Regions from separate parts of the Homo sapiens genome. Here region 1 is linked to region 2. Evidence: fine-mapped expression QTL. Tissue or cell type: whole blood. Region 2 holds a variant in brackets; the other region holds the start of a gene. All regions are shown on one strand. Distances are from middle to middle.

Region 1 (8,106 bases), 45 kb before region 2:
TACTAAAAATACAAAAAAAAAAAAAAAAATTAGCTGGGCGTGGTGGCGTGTGCCTGTAGTCCCAGCTGCTGGGGAGGCTGAGGCAGGAGAATGGCGTGAACCCGGGAGGCAGAGCTTGCAGTGAGCCGAGATCGTGCCACTGCACTCCAGCCTCGGCGACAGAGCAAGATGCTGTCTCAAAAAAAAAAAAAAAAAAAAAAAAAAAAAAGAATGACTTAAAAGTAAATTAAATTGGTAAATTGGTAAGAATTTAAAAAATTAATCGTGCTCCAATTAAATGCTAAATATGATATTTTCATGAGCAAATCAAGCTTACTTAATATAGTTTATGCACCTCAATCCACAAAGTGAATTTTTAAAGATTAAATAATGTAAGCCAAATAAGCTTGGAGGAAGGTAGGCAGAAGACATATTAGGCCATTAAAATGGGTTACTGTGGGAGGTAGAAATGAAGGATTGTAGGTGGGGGCATTAATTTTGTCTTACACATAATTCAATTATTTTTCTTGTTACAGTAAGCATACCTTATTTTTATAATTAACGTAAAATCTCATAATTAAAATCTAAACAAAAAAGAAAAATATTTGTAAAACCTAGACAAATAAGCATACGTTTACATTTTATTCACTCCCCATGCCATTTTCCTTCTATGTTTCAAAATATCAAGAAATGTTCATCTATAAGAAGAAGGTAGAGGTGGAAATACAGTAGGAGCTGAGAATGAATGAGTGAAGTAATGCCAACAAGAAAACCAAAATAATTGTTATCTCTGGCTAGTCTTTAAGCTTGTCTCCCAAGAAGTTCCAACTGTCCCGCTGCTGACATCATGCATGCTTCTCTTCGACGATGTCAAGCAAAGGGATGAGGCTATGAAGGGACAGAGGGGAACCCAGGGGACTGTCCACTGGGAACACATAGTAAAGGGCATGGCCCCAAACCGAGCCCAGACAGGAACAATTTAGTGAGACAAAGCAGGCTGCAGAGTCCAGCAGGGACAGAACAGTCCCAAGGGCAAAGCGGTTCGAGGTTTTATGTCTGGTGTGGTTGCTGGGCTGGTCCTTACACCTGTGAGCCACACAGGTCAGTGTGGGAGGGGTCAGTACCACAGGCCCTGTCCCCTATCCTGTTCCACAGCTGTTAAACGCCCAGGAAATTCCAGTATAATCCTTGCTCAGTTTAATGCCAAAGCCTCTATCCTTTAATCTCCACCTTGGAGATCTCTTCGTGCTCTGGCCTCCTGCCTTGAGAAGGATCCCATCATCAGGCTTCATGGAGGCATCCAGGACAGACAGTGAGGAGGTGGCTGTCCTCCGGCTCTTCTAGTCCCTGCTTCCTTGGCTGGAGAAGCCAATTTGTAGATTACCTAGCAGAGGACAGTCCTGTGTCCCTGGAGGCCTCCAGCCCCTGAGAATGTCCCCCAGAGCACTGTGACTCAGACAAATGTGCCTCCCACTCCCAGGCTGTGGAGCTGGGGGAGGCTTTTAAGATGCAGGCAGTGTCTAGGTCTAGCCAGACAGCCACTTAGAATGAGCCACTCTGTGCACTGACCGGGGACATGCGTGGCTCTGGAAAAGAGCATAAGGGAGGGTGTTAAGGCAGGAGGCAAATGTGCCTGAGAGATGAGTAAGTGGAAGGTTGTGGAAGAAAGCCCCTGAGTGCCAGGAGTAGCACCTGCGTCAGCAGTGCCTGAGGATGTGTGTCTACCTGGTGGAGTGTGTAAGGGAATGTGTATGAGATGAGGTGGGCGGGAGCAGATGCTGTCTGTGTAGATGGGGGCTGTTGCTTTCCTGTGGCAGAAGATGCACATCAGTGCTGGTTCCGGAGTGGTTCCATGGGCCCTTCTTCCTCACCTTCGGCCCCTGCTCTACCCCCAGTCTGGCTGTGAGTTGCTCTTGGCCCCAGGAGGTACTTCTGCAGAAACACCTGGGCTGGGAGAGGGAGCCAAGTGGGGGGCGGGGAGGAGTGGGTAAAGAAAGGGAAACCTGAGGCTTCCCAAACCCTCCAGAACCTGCCATCCTCCTTCTACCTAGAGTGGGAACTCAGGGTCTAGGGCCCAGGCTCAGGACAGAGTGATAGCAGAACAGCCGTCCCAGAAGGAGGATCCTGCCTTTCCCATGCTCAGCCCACCCCAGCCTGTTGCTCCCCAGCATTCTGGTAACTCAGTGTCATTGCCAACCATCTTTTTGCACCCTGAATGGAGTAATAGACTCCAAACAAGTCCTCCTTCTGAGGCCACCAGGTAAGTACATAGACACCCCCACGCTAATCTTCCTTTGAGAAAAAAGGCCCACTGCTCTGAAAAGCCAAGTGGCCCCACTGAGCAGCACTCAGAAGCCTCAATGCTCCAATGCCCCTTACTTGGGCAGCTTCTGTGGTCTACTAACAGCCCCACACAGCTCCCTCCCACTGGTCTCTCAGCTCAGGACCAGCATCTCCCCTCCTAGAGCCTCAGTCAAGTTCCCCTGGCGGGCGGAGGGCCTGGGTTAACTGGGAACAGACCCAGCAGCTCCGCTCCATGGGCGCTGCCAGGGACATTACAACATTGCTATGCTGGGTCCATGCCAGCTCCCCCAGGGATGGGAGGAGAGAGGGTGCCAGACGGCCAAGATCGGTGGGTGGGGGTGTGGGGCAAGCAGGGCCAAGCACCCAGATGGAGGGAGCAGAGCGAGGGTGGAGCTGGGGCAGGAGCACGCAATAGAATTTGGTTGCACGTTGGGGGTGATGGCTGGGCAGCAGGAACCAAGCGTTCCTTCCACCTCCAAGGCTTAACTGTGGTCATGGAGCTGGGGGGGACAGTGCCTTGTGGGGAGCAGGGGACAGGTGTGTGGTCAGCCTCCTGACTCCTCCCAGCTCCAAGGGGATTGGAGTGATGCCACTGGAGTCAGAGGGGTGGCAATCCTGTTCCAAGCGTGGAGCTCCGTCTCTGCGAGGACCCTCCCAGATTAGGACTCCCAAGCCAGAGCCAGAGGAGAATGTCTGGGAACGCAACTGGGGGATCCTAACAGCAAGGGTAATGCGGTGTCAATGATGCCAGGTCAGAGTGGAGTGAGAGGGGAGTAGCCAGGTTGACCGTTTCCTCACCCTTCATGAACCCCACTCTGGCCTTGAGGAAGGATCCTCAGTACTCCCTCAGGAAGCCACCTAGGGGCTGAGGAGCCCCACTACTCTTGCAAACCTTAATTCCTCTGTCCCCAAGCATACTGTCCCCGACCCCCACAACGCCGCCTGCTAACCCCGCGGGCTCACCTTCCCGTTGGCCGCAGTCTCTGCAGGTCTGCGCCCCCCGAGGCCTCGCAGTGGACCCGGGGCTCCTGGAGCTCGCACGGTGCCACCCGCGTCTTCTCCAGTCCGGGGACCCCGTTGCACCCGGCCCGGGTCCGTTCGGCGCCGAGAGTCCCTGGGATTCCGGGGTGGACCTGACGCTGGCGGCAGGGGCTGCTCCAGAGGTGGGGCGCCGGGAGATCCTGGGGGCCCGCGTCGAGATCGCCGTCGCCAAGCTGGGTCCCGGGTCCCGCCGCCCGCTGCTGTAGAGCCGCGGCTGGAGCGAACGCAGCCCGGCCCGCCCCCTCCGCGTCCCCTCCCAAGCCGGCCCGGCCCGCCCCTTCAGCCCCTTTGGCCGCCTTCCCACTCCCTTCTTCCGGGGAGCCGAGCCCGCCCTCCCGGCCTAGGCGGTGAGTGCGCGGCGCCCGCTCCTCCGCCCCGGCGCGCGGGGGAGACGCGGGGCGCGCCCGGGGCCCCGCCTGTGCGCCGGGAAGGGGGCGGCCTCCTCCCGCGGGTCTTGGCCGGGAGGATCGCACGCGTGGGGCGCCTGCAGGAAGTGGGAAGGGAAGAGGCTGTCTGTAAAGCCCCTGCCTGGGCTCGGGCTCGGGCTCGGCTTGGGTCGGACACCCGCGGAGCGAAGCGCAACTGGCGGACCGTGGCAGTTCAGGGCAGGGCAGAGCCCTGCACACACCCCCTCGCGCCTCCCTCCTCTTCGGCTTTAACTCTAGGAACTAAAACAGTGGGGCTCCTACTCAGCTTGGAACTAAGGTGGGCGTGAGCTGAGCAAGAGAGAAGGAAGGAAAAGCAGGGGGTGGAGGGAAAGACAAACTGAGAAATCTGGGAGAGTACGGGCGGTGGTAGGGGGAGCCGAGGCAGCGGGAGAGGGGGGCGTCTCGGTATGAAAGCGTCGCCGTGCTAGCCGGGAACTCTTTTCTCTTTTCGTGTCTGGATCTTGGTCAACGTTGGGGCTTCTGAGTCGAACCTCCCTCCATCTACCCTCCCCAAGGGGCAGGGCAGTCGGGTTGAAAAGGGGAAGCGCTGCTGTACGCCTGGCTCTGACATGGCTTGGGCAAGTCGCTGCACCTCTGGGTGCCTCCTCCCTCGCCCGCGCTCCGGAGAGAACCTCCCTGCAGTGAGGAGGGGCGGTGCAAGGTGCTCTCAGCTGGCGCCTGGAGGCAGGGTTGAGGAACCGAGGGGGCGCCGCGAGGAAAAGTGTTTCCGCCCACCTCTAACCCCTTCTCTAGCCGAGGACGGGGATTTGGGGTCTATTGTTTGGGTCCTACAGAGCTGGGCTGGGGCCTTGCCACGAAGTGTTGCTACCACCTGCTGGTTTTTCTAGGGAGCACAAGCACCCGGTGCGATTCCCTTTGCCCCCTTTTCTCCCTGTATCGCCCTGTCCCATCTTGCTCTCCTGTTTATTAAAGCAAATGGGCTGATCAAAACTGGTACTTAAAGAGCATTCAGAAGCCGAAGAAAATTGTGAAAGAGATCTATGAGCCAACAAACACAATAAACAAAACAATGAAACTCAGTAAGAGTCACCTGGGAGAGACAAACAGGCTTTAATGAATTGACTGAATGAGTGATAGAAAGATAAAGGCTACCGAGCAAGTTCCCACTTGGCCAGGGGTTTGTTCACTCTTAATATCAGGAGTCAATAAATAAGTCTGATAGTATTTAATGACTGCATTTGGACGTCATTAATAATTCCACTTGTACTGACGGTTCTACTTTATCTTGTTTCTTCCCTTTGCCCTGAAACTCAGTGGTGGAGGGCTTCCTTCATTTTCTGGTTATCTCCAAGGCTTTCAAAGACTTCTGCAAAGAAACAGAATTTGCATTGTGTGTGGAATTACGTAACTCATACATTAACATGCCTGATTGCTAGACATCTATGGTTATATTGAAAACTTAAAAAAAAGACACATAACTAGATTATGTTAAAATAAAAATATGGACAAAACCAAACCGTAGTTGTTACTTTATAAAACCCAGAAATTCCTGTAGTAATTTGCAACGTATCCTGTATTGACATAACAGTAAAAATATCTGCCTTCTTTTCTATTTCATGATATACCTCATATTAGGTGACTATAATATGAAATGAAGTTTTTGCTGCTCAAGGCTTGTGTAATTAGTTATATTTGTCTTGTTAATAAAATTTGAGAGGCATCTAGTTTTCAAAGGAAGTGTCATACTCAGGATGCAAAGAGGTTTAAATTTGTGATTAGTCGGCTTTGCATCCTAATTGCCTATGTCTTATCAAACCAAGTTTTAATGGTAGGTGGAGAGCATAGAATGCATTGTTAAAGTATGCTGCAACCTGCAGCTATTAAAAAGCAAAGTAATGAATTCCTTTTTAAAGTTTAATGTAAATTTTTTGCTATAATTTGTTTGGTGCCTGGGACACTCCAGGTGCTTAGAAGTGTTATAGAATGAATCAATAAAAAATAATATTTAAACTTTTTCTATGTGGATGGGCACAGTGGCTTATGCCTGTAATCCCAGCACTTTGGGAGGCTGAGGTGAGAGGATCACTTGAGGTCAGGAGTTTGAGATCAGCCTGGCCAACATGGTGAAACCTCATCTCTACCAAACAATACAAAAATTAGCCAGGCATGGTGATGCATGCCTATAGTCCCAGACACTCAGGAGGCCAAGGTGGGAGAATCGCTTGAACCCGGGAGGCGGAGGTTGCAGTGAGCCAAGATTGTCCTACTGCACTCCAGCCTGGGCGACAGAGTGAGACCCTGTTTCTTTCTATATATATATGTGTGTATATATATATATTTTTTTTTTTTGACTTGTTCAAAAAAAAAACCCTGGAGTATTGCTAATGGGCAGGACCTAATAAAGTTTATGGCTCACAGAATTAATCATTTCTGGCACACAACAATCTATTATGTAAATTTGGAACCAAAAGGAACTGCTGAGTAGAAAACTCCAGGTGAGATAGGAAGGCTCCTAGATTGGTTCTGCCTCATTTTTTCTGAGTTTTTGCCTCCTTCTTGGGCTTTGCTCACTCCCCTAGGATGTGCAATTTTCTTCTTCCTTATTTCCCCTTAGAACAGCTAATGTAAGCTGATGTTGTCATAAACAAAGAGCTTTACAAATAATTTCACTGATAAGAATTCTAGTAAAAAGCCATAAAGGAGTCTTCTGAGTCCCCTATCTCTTATTCCAAAACATTAGTTATAGCTCCCAATGCATGACCTCACAGGGCTCAGGCCCTTCACTGAACTGTCTTGAGGCTTTGTGGCCTCTAGGTGCAGTTGCACTTCCTAAAAGCTGGAGTCTAGTCTCCAAACACTTTACCAATGGAAGTGTTAAATGCCCATTTGTACAACTAAAGCTTTTATTGTTTTCTGTTCAGAAACTTCTAGAATGTTCAAAAATTCTCCTATGTTACTGGTTTGTTTGAAAGTCAAACCTAGATTGCAACTGATTTGTAGACCAAGGGTAATGGATACCCTTCATGGTGGTATTAAAGTTTACCCATCATAGTCCTACACTTTGATATTACTTTAACCATGCAATAATAACAAGGTATTCAGAGATATTAGTGCCTCCAAGAGAAAGAGGATGGCTTTTCTCTCAGTTAGGGGTTGACTTCAGCTATATGTAACAGCAAAGTTGTACAACAGTGGTTTAAACAAATTAGATAACACAGAAATACGATGAAGGTCCCAAGTCAACAAGACTCCAACTTTAGGATGAGGACTTGTTCTCAGATTGTCAACATTTTAGCCAGAGCTCCAGCTATGAGGTCTACAAATTTCAGGCAAGAAAAAGAAGGGAACAGGATTAAAACGCTACATCCAGCTGAATTAGCACTGTTCAAAGAACCTTTCTGGAAGATCCATTCAGTGACTTCATATGTATTATTGGCCAGGACAGTGTCACGTGACCACCCCTACCTGCTTGAAACCTGCAAAATACATGCTGCACAAAATGAAATTAAAGCTGTTAAACCTAAGAGAGGAAGAAAGAAAGCGTGTTAGCCAGGGGAACAGCAGCCTCTGCCACAAATGAAATAAAATGATCACGGTAATCTACATTTTTCCCTGCAATCAACAGAGATCTCTATCTCCTTTTTATAGGATATACTTGCTGGTACTTTCCCCCAGACCACTGTCTTTACATAGGTTTAATGCTCAAAGATGGTCCCCAGGAAGTTAGTGGAGTGAAGGGAAATGCTAGGAGTGTCCTCTTTCTAAAATAACCATGACATGATCTCAAAAGAAAAATAACAAATCCTTTGCAGTTACCCATACAAACAATAGGACTTGAAAACATTCTAGATTTTAATAAGATTTTGGGCAGGGCAGTCCTCATATGCAGAGCAGAAGTGATCAACACTCCACACCATTCTTTGCTCCTTTCCTGGTTTGTATCTTTTCCATTCAGGTGCATATAGGAGATGGGATGATCTATGATGTGGAGCAGATGGTCCCCTGGTCGGCTCTTCCAGTAGAATGCAGTCTATTTCTGGAGCTGCGCCTCCAGATAGTGCTCTCTGAAAACATTTGCATTTCCTAAACTGAAAGGGTGGCCTGCATTTCTATGAGATCTGCCTTCTACTTGTAGATGTGGCTGACACATTTCCTGGTTCCCATATTCTCTTGTCTTATAGTATACGTCTCTCTCTACATTCAAATGGATTCTGAGAATCTATCCCATCAGAACTTAAAGCACCACCGACAAAGTGGAGCTAGTCAACATGAAGAATGAGTAAACAGCAACGACAGCACTTGAGATCTTTTAACAATCTGAAGCAAAGTAGAAAAGGAATGAAGATGTAAGAGTTCAAAGAAAAAGTCTTCACTTTATATTCTTAATGAGTTA
Region 2 (8,106 bases):
AGAAGCAGAGCTGTGAAATGAACCCAAATCCATATGATTCCAAGTCTCTGTGATGTTTCCTATTACTCATATTGCATTTAGAGGATAAATTAGATCTAGTTGGCCCATTAGAGACACATGGAGCAGATTCCAACTTTGATCAGTTCAGGAGTTAATTATGCCTGTCCAGGTCTCAAAATCTGTCTGCCAGGGATGAAGATTATGCAGGCGATCCCTTTGGCTGTCATAGAAGCTTCCTGCCCTCAGAACTGAGCATTTCTGCTTTGATTACCCCAAAATACCTGAATCTCTTGAGCCCTATCCTTTCATCTCCCAGGTAACATGTCTAGCTCTAGTTTCCAATTTCAGATAAACTAAAATCTTTTTTCATCCTTCTATCAGTATCACAGTTTCTCTGAAGCTTTCCCAGGCTTCTGATGTCTCCCGGGGGAGCTGGAGAGTTACCTTTAGTTTACAGGTAAATAATGAGTCATTAAATATATTTACATACCAGGATGTCAGCAGGAATGCAAAGAAGATAACAAGTGCAGAGTATAGCTGGTTCCCAGGGAGGCTGGGGGTGATTCACCACACTCTTAAAAGAAGACTAGCCTCATTTCCTCCCCAGCTCATGGGGTAGGATTCCTCTGCTCTGGCAGCAGATCTCCCAGAGGGAGCAGCCTGACCACATCACTGGCCCAGAAGAGGAGGCGTCTGTCCCCCAGACTAGCTGAAGGAAAGGCTGGCTTGGATGATGCTCTGCTCTCTCCTTGCCCTTCTCCTGGGCACTTTCTTTGGTGGGTGCCCTCCTCTCTGGCAAGCCTCTTTTCTCATCCTCACCCTCACCCCAATCCCGTGAATGCAGAGTCTGAGCTGTTGGTTTGACACTCTTGAGTCTATTCCTGATTGTCTGGAACAGATATGGGAATTTAGCCTTAGGGGCTGATCTGATGATTCTTAGTTCTCTCTATCTCCTGAGAAGGAGTTCGTTCTGTTGGTCTTCCCTGGCCCAGGGATGCTTTGCATCCTTGGCTCCCCCAGTCTACTCCCCATGATGGATTCCAGGTGCCTGTGTCATGCAAGAGCTTGAGCTGCCCCTCTGTCTGGGGAAGGCAAGCCAGGCTGGGGTGCTCCTCTGTAAATGGCACTTTATCTTTCCCACAGGGGTCAGATCTCAGACTATTCATCAATGGCCAGCGACCCTGGTGCAGCCTGTGGGCAGCCCGCTCTCTCTGGAGTGCACTGTGGAGGGAACATCAAACCCCAACCTATACTGGTACCGACAGGCTGCAGGCAGGGGCCTCCAGCTGCTCTTCTACTCCGTTGGTATTGGCCAGATCAGCTCTGAGGTGCCCCAGAATCTCTCAGCCTCCAGACCCCAGGACCGGCAGTTCATCCTGAGTTCTAAGAAGCTCCTTCTCAGTGACTCTGGCTTCTATCTCTGTGCCTGGAGTGTCACACTGAGCTGGGTGGGGCAGACATCTGTGCAAAAACCCCACCCTCTCCTGAGCCCTAACCATACTCCCCAGGGGCCTTCACTTAGGGACTGGGTGGAGGATATTTGTAAGTAGGTTTCTGACTGCTGGCCAATGTGAAAGCAATGGAATAAAGCGAGAATTCTACAAAAGACTCTACTAAGTTCTCAGGGAGAACAAAAAATTGTATGTGTGCAGAACCTGTGATTTGCCTGCACATAGTCAAGTTCTCAATGTATGGATGTCCCGGCCCAGGCTACCATACTCCAGCCCTCAAGGTGTGCTATACCTTGCCTGATTTTCTAGTCTTCCAAATTCTTCTATGTGTGCCGTGGGGAGGGGGTTTGTGCATATATGGCTGAGAGAAAGGATATACCTGTGGCAGGAGGTGAGCTGGTGAACAAACGGGAGGATGCCAACCCAGGTTACTTAATTGGTTAATTTCATCACCTGGAGAGTCTCCTGTCATTGATCTTTCTGCTGAGACTAGAAATTATGGGGAGGCTTAGACCTGAGGCTTTGAGTCAGGCAAAGAGGCAAGATGTTCAGGAGACTGTTCTCATTCGAGGCAGAAGTGTGGTTTTGTTAGTATAGGTAACATGCACTTAGGCCAGACGTGGTAGCTCATGCCTGTAATCCCAGCACTTTGGGAGGCTGAGGCAGGAGGATCACCTGAGGTCAGGAGTTTGAGACCAGCCTGGCCAATATGGTGAAACCTGTCTCTACTAAAAGTACAAAAATTAACCGGGCGTGGTGGCAGGCGTCTGTAATACTAGCTACTTGGGAGGCTGAGGCAAGAGAATCACTTGAACCTGGGAGGTGGAGGTTGCAGTGAGCCAAGATCATGCCACTGCACTCTAGCCTGGGTGACAGAGCGAGACTCTGTCTCAAAAAAAAAAAAAATAAAAATAAGCTTGCACTTAGAAATTTTGGTGATGTTTGAGGTTTTAAAAAATGTCCTGTTGTACTATCTTGTAGCCCTTCCTTTGTAGCAAAGACAGACAGATGGTGATCCAAGAGATACGCAAGAAGAGGACCGTGTGTGTAATGGTTGAGCTCTAAAAAAGAGAAATCACTTGGATGGAAATGAAGGAGAGGAAAAGGCTGATGTGGATGGCTGGGAAGAGGTTCGATGGTTACCTTGGCAACTGAGCTTCCTTCCTCATCCCCATCCCTCCCTAGTCCTTGTTCTTAAAAAGATTTTCTTTCTAATGTCCCTTCCCCTCCACAAGGGGGCACAAGATGTCTTAAAATACTCCATTCCGGGCATCATTTAACCTAGATCAATCCAGACACGTGCATATTTCTAGTATCATTTAATCTGAAGTGGAAAATCTGAGATGTAGACACAGAGTGATCAAGAACATATGGAATAATGCCCAGGGGTCCCTACTGAACTTTAAGGATCACCTATGTATTAAGCAGCTATTATTTGCTGGACACAGTGAGTCATTTTGAGGATTAAAAAGAAAAATAAAATGTACTCGAGATGGTGTTGGGCACAGTCATAGCATGATTTAGTCAAAGCACTTGATTTTTGTAGTCTAAAAATTTGCTAGTTGTTATGAACTTGACCTAGTTATTTAATTTTACTAAGTTTCAAGTTTTTCCCCACCTATAAAACTTGCCTCATTGAATTGTTATGTGTATTAAATGAGATGGTGTTTATAAAGCCCTATTACAAGCTCTAATTTTCAACAGGTATTATTTTCCGCTCCTTAAGCTTACAAGATTATTTTCATTACAACTTACCCAAGAGGAAGACTTAGTTAAAAAATTTCAAATCATAAACTACAAGTATGTAATAAATATTAATATTTAAAATGCTAAACATGCTTGGATGGCAAAACCATGAAACTTGAACCCTATGCTGTGCCTATTCAGATGCTGATTCTGTAGGGGCTTTATACAGCTTCAGAATCCTCATTAATAGAGAAATGTCTCAGGCAATCACCACTAGTCAAGTAGAATTAGTAGAGACTTGAGGCAGATTTTTCCTTCCTGTAATATACTGCAAAAATTCTGGAAAACTTCACAAAGGACATAAAATTGTAGCTAAGTTTAGCTCTTTAGGAGGCTAATAGTTATATAAGCAAAATGACATTGCAAGCAGGAGAGTCAGTTTGTGTAGAAATGTGCAGGTCTATGTGAATATTGTAAGTTTTAGAGAATCTGAAGAAAAAAAGTCCTGATCATTGCACAGAGCATCCTAGAGACAGGTGAGCATTGAAGGAGAGGCTTGAAAGCCACCTAAATTCAGCAGAACAAATTAACATCCTCCATGTTATCTGCTCTTATTCATGCAAGACTGTTCATTCCCATAACTGTTTCCATACCATCTAGGACTCAGAAATCCACAGTCATTATAATTCCAGGGGACAAAGGAAAGCAGTTTAGGATGACCGATCCTGTTCAGACATGCTGTCTCTTGCCAATAATTCATCAAACTCACTTGCCCCTTTAATCAGATGAGGCTGTCTCTTTTCTAGGAGAGCTTCCAGGATTTGCATCTGATTTTGCAGATGTGCAGGATGACTATTTCCATATATCTCCTTCCCTGGCCAGTTGCACATGGAAGATTCAGGGCCACATGCTGGTGGCCAGAGGCACTCTCCCCAAGATGCTTCTCATAGATCTCAGCCACCCATGGGACTTATAAGGAGATACCCTTGTGCCTCTAAATAGATCTCAGCCACCCATGGGACTTATAGGGAGTCACCCTGGGGCCTCTGGACAGCTTGAGTAAGATGAAGAATGCCCGGGGTTGGGAAGCTGGTAATACTAAAATTAGGCGACTTCTTATTTTTGCCCAGGATTCAGTGGTTTGGGATAAGAATGCTACAATCCCTTGAGCTCCTGCAGAGCAGGCTTGACCTATTATATACCTGGTAATTTCCCACTACTTACTTTGGGGGTTTCTGCCTCTCTAGTTTTTCATTCTGTCTTGCATTATGTTCTTCTAAGATGTGTTAGAAAATATTCATCACACAGACCTTACAGGCTTTAGCAACTACAGGAAAAAACTACGAGGAGCCAGTCAATGCAGTGCACAAACACTGGCTCAGACATCCAGGGACTGTCCGTTTTGCAGTCTGTTGGTTATCTAGGGCTACCTCTCCTGTGACTCATCAGCACCTCTCATTACATGAGTGGAAGGAAGTGGGAGGATACATGTGGAGGGAGGTGGAAGGGAGTTTGGGGGGCAGGTGGGAAGAGAGAGTTGCCTGAGTGATGTGGGACCAGAAGGGATCCCAACTGGGTCAGAGCAGTTATTGCAGCTGTTTTTCATTCTCCACTATCTTCATGGTGCCCACTGTGGCCTTTGATCTTGTGCATAACCTCCAGCAGGTGTAAAGATGTGTTGGGGGAGGGGAGGCCTGCACATGGATCTGGGATACCTAGATTCCCCTCTAGAGACCCTGCCCCTCCCCTCTGAAGTTCTATTTCTACTGCCAGGATGCTAACCAGGGGCCCAGGTAGAAAGAGCAGCATAGGAGGGGGTTGGGTGCCGGATGCGGTGAGTGTGGTTCTCATGATGCTCTGAAGGTGGGTGGGTGGAGGGAGC[A/G]ACTTTCACAGGCACCCCAGATGCAGGACCCAGTAAATGTCAAACCACATCCTGTTGTGACTGTAAGAGATGGAGCTAGGGCAGGTGGCTGCTGTGGCTTGGTGCTGATGTGACTCAGAGATAAACAGCCCGGCAGCCAGCACTGGGCTCAGAACCCCCATTCCTACCCCAGTTGTCAGCTATTACCTAAAAGACCCCGATTTACATCTCATTACTTCCCACCTTTTGATTCAGGGCCACTCTCCTTTTTAACACAATTTTCTTGTCATTCATGGCCCTAGACCTTTTTGATGGAGGAGGGCCAGGGAACAGGTGTCAGGGCTCCAGTTGACTCTTGCTAACTGTGGGACTCCAGTGCCAGTGCTGTCCTCTTCCACCATCAGACTGTCTGAGACTATGTCACAGATATGTATGATTTGAGGCCAGGAAGAGCTTAGCTTCTCTGAGTTCCCATTCTCTTGGTACTTCAGAGACTGCAGGCTTTGAATCAGAGAATCTGAAGAGCAGAGTTTGAAGATTCTTAGAGATCACTTTACCCAATGTCCTCATATCACAGAGGAGGACATATAAGCCCAGAGAATAAAAATGAGTTGTTCAGAGCCATGCAGCTGGGGCCAGAGGAGGACCAGAAGCTAATTCTCTGTGTTTTAGCAGCTCCTGGACTTCAGACAAGGCTTGGGGAATGTGGGGTCTCTGTTGAGCTGTGATCTTGCTATGAATTTCATGAATCACTCTTATAGTAATGAATCAGGCAAGATGATCATATCTGAGATGGCATGAGGATAGAAGGATAAATATAATGAATCACAAAATTAGAATCCTGCAGAATCTTAATAGGTTGGAGAGATAAGCTGAATAAACATGATAAACATTCTCTCTCTCCCTCCTCCCCCACCAAACAGAGAAAACCATCTATATGAACACAGGAAGGGGAATATGTGAAAGAAGGATATGTGAAAAAACACCCAGGGGGTGAGTCAAAGTGAGCTCTGTGAGTCAACGGGATGGTGAGCGTACAAAAAGTAGATAAATTGTCCTAATGGAACCAACTAACGTATAAGATGTTGAGAAAGAGGAGGCAAAGTTCCCCCTTTACTCTTTGTAGGTCAGAACCCACCTGGTGCTGGGTCAGGTCCTGTACAACACATTTTTTAAAAGATAGAGGGATAAAAACAAACTTTAATGTTTTCAGAAGGGAGTGATTGGGCTATGGAAAGTAGGACGTGCTCAAAACTGTGCCCTATAATAACAAAATTGAGAAAACTGAAAATGTTTTGCCTGAAAAAAATCTTCAGGTTGGTAGTAGTTATAATAACACCTAATACTTACTGATATTGTTCTAAAAGCTTTACATGTTGTGTGGGTTAAATGAGATAAAACGATCTTATGAAGTTGGGCTTGTAATTGAGCTCATTTTACAGCAAGGAAAACTGAGTCTCAGAGGTGATCACTTGCCCAGGGTCACATAGTTGATAAATGACAGAACTAAGGCTTAAACCCAGGTCTCTGCATTACAACATCTTCTTTGCTACGATAATGTTTTCATCCATCCACTACATGCTTTTTTTCCATTCCAAAAACTCAAGTTTTAAAGTTTCTAATGATTCTGTCTCGCATAGATTTATGGGTTCTTGCCAGAATATGGGCACTCTGTTGCATGTAGACACCTGAGAGGGCTTTTGGGGGGACTATAGGGTCCCAGAGATAAGTGAATAGCAACTGTAGGTTGGCAAAAAGGAGCTGAGAATTAGCTTTACATGTTGTGTGGATTAAATGCTCATATTCACAGAGGGCAGTTGAGATCAGTTGCAGAGCAAGCTGATAAAAATCCTTTGGAAATAGTCACAGGTGTAGGCTCATTTTCAGATCCTTTTTGCTGACCTACAGAAGCCATTCACTCATTTTTGGGGCCCCATATTCCCCAAGAAGCCCTCTCAGGAGTCCACCAGCAGCAGAGATAAAGACTATGGATAGAGATGGGAGAGAAAGGCATGTAGTTGAGTCTATAGGAGAGGGGGATGGCGAATAGAAAATATCATGTCTGTTGGAGGGAGATGATTCATAAGTTCTGCCACAATAAAAAAAATAAAAGGACAGGCAGAGATGTAGGGATGTTAAGGAACCCAGGAACTTCAAATTCACAAACACAGACAGCAAGAAAAGGAAGGCTTCCAGATAGGAGGAAAGAACATTCAACCCTAGAATAAGGCAGGGAATATGTTGTGTTTGAGTCTAGGTGGGTTGGGTAGTCTTAGGTTATGGGGTCCCAAGCCTCAGAAATCAGCTTTTTGGGAGCCATGGGAGTTTGCCACAAGCAATGGAAATGAACTGTGATTAAAACTGTTGGCCATGCTTCATGCCATTCTATACTATGAGTCTTCTTATATAGCATAGGGGAGTTTCTAGGACATGGTAAAAGTGAACCTGGTGATGAGTCTGAGATGTCAGTAGAGAAGCAGAAAATGGATTCACTCATGGGTCCATGGCAAAGCTGAGTTCACCTCTGGGTTTTAGCCATTCCCGTGATCTCCACCAGCATCTCCCAACACCCCTAAATGAAAATATGGCTAGACATCTTTGCTCAGTGTTACCTGAGGAAGAAGCAAAAACTCATTTTTGTTTTCACTATGCAGCTTCAACAGAGGTCTCAAAGCACCAATATTCCATTCCCACATTCATTTATAACCAGAGAAACCTCACAAAGATTCTCCTATATAGGACATTTGGGGCTGTGTGTCACACAGACTGTTAGGGGCTGATATCAGTCTATCTCCACCCCTCCTTTCTGGGCCACTACAGAAGAAAAATGAGGAAATGGCTCAGGGACGGAAATGGAGACTTTAATATCTATTAGGATCCATTGCCCTTATCTCAAACTCTTATTATGAAATCACTCCCTTGAGAGAGAAAAAGCCTTTTTCTCTTGGATTGTCCCAGCAGCTCCCGACCATCCCCACTCCCCAACCTTATGTGGCCCAGCAATGAGCCTAGTAGTAGGAAAATCTCTATGGATACTGGTGCTGATGGGAAGATTCTTCCTCTCAGGAAGTGATGGTGACTGGGGCTCTGGGATGCTCACGGGAATCC

Evidence for each region. PIP is the estimated chance that this variant, and not a neighbour inherited with it, causes the effect.
Region 1: EPHB6 starts here. The variant in region 2 is fine-mapped to the expression of EPHB6 in whole blood (INTERVAL, PIP above 0.99).

What each region holds. Positions count from the first base shown.
Region 1 is chr7:142,850,526-142,858,631 of GRCh38, reverse strand. It overlaps EPHB6 (EPH receptor B6), which reads right to left and starts at 3,556. Exons shown (of 20, transcript NM_004445.6): 1 at 3,247-3,556.
Region 2 is chr7:142,805,915-142,814,020 of GRCh38, reverse strand. It overlaps TRB and TRBV30. Among named protein-coding and RNA genes, the nearest start is that of PRSS2, 39 kb to the right of the region's middle. RefSeq lists a cis regulatory region at 4,420-5,311 and an enhancer at 4,433-5,632. The variant A/G (reference allele first, on the strand shown) is at 5,020.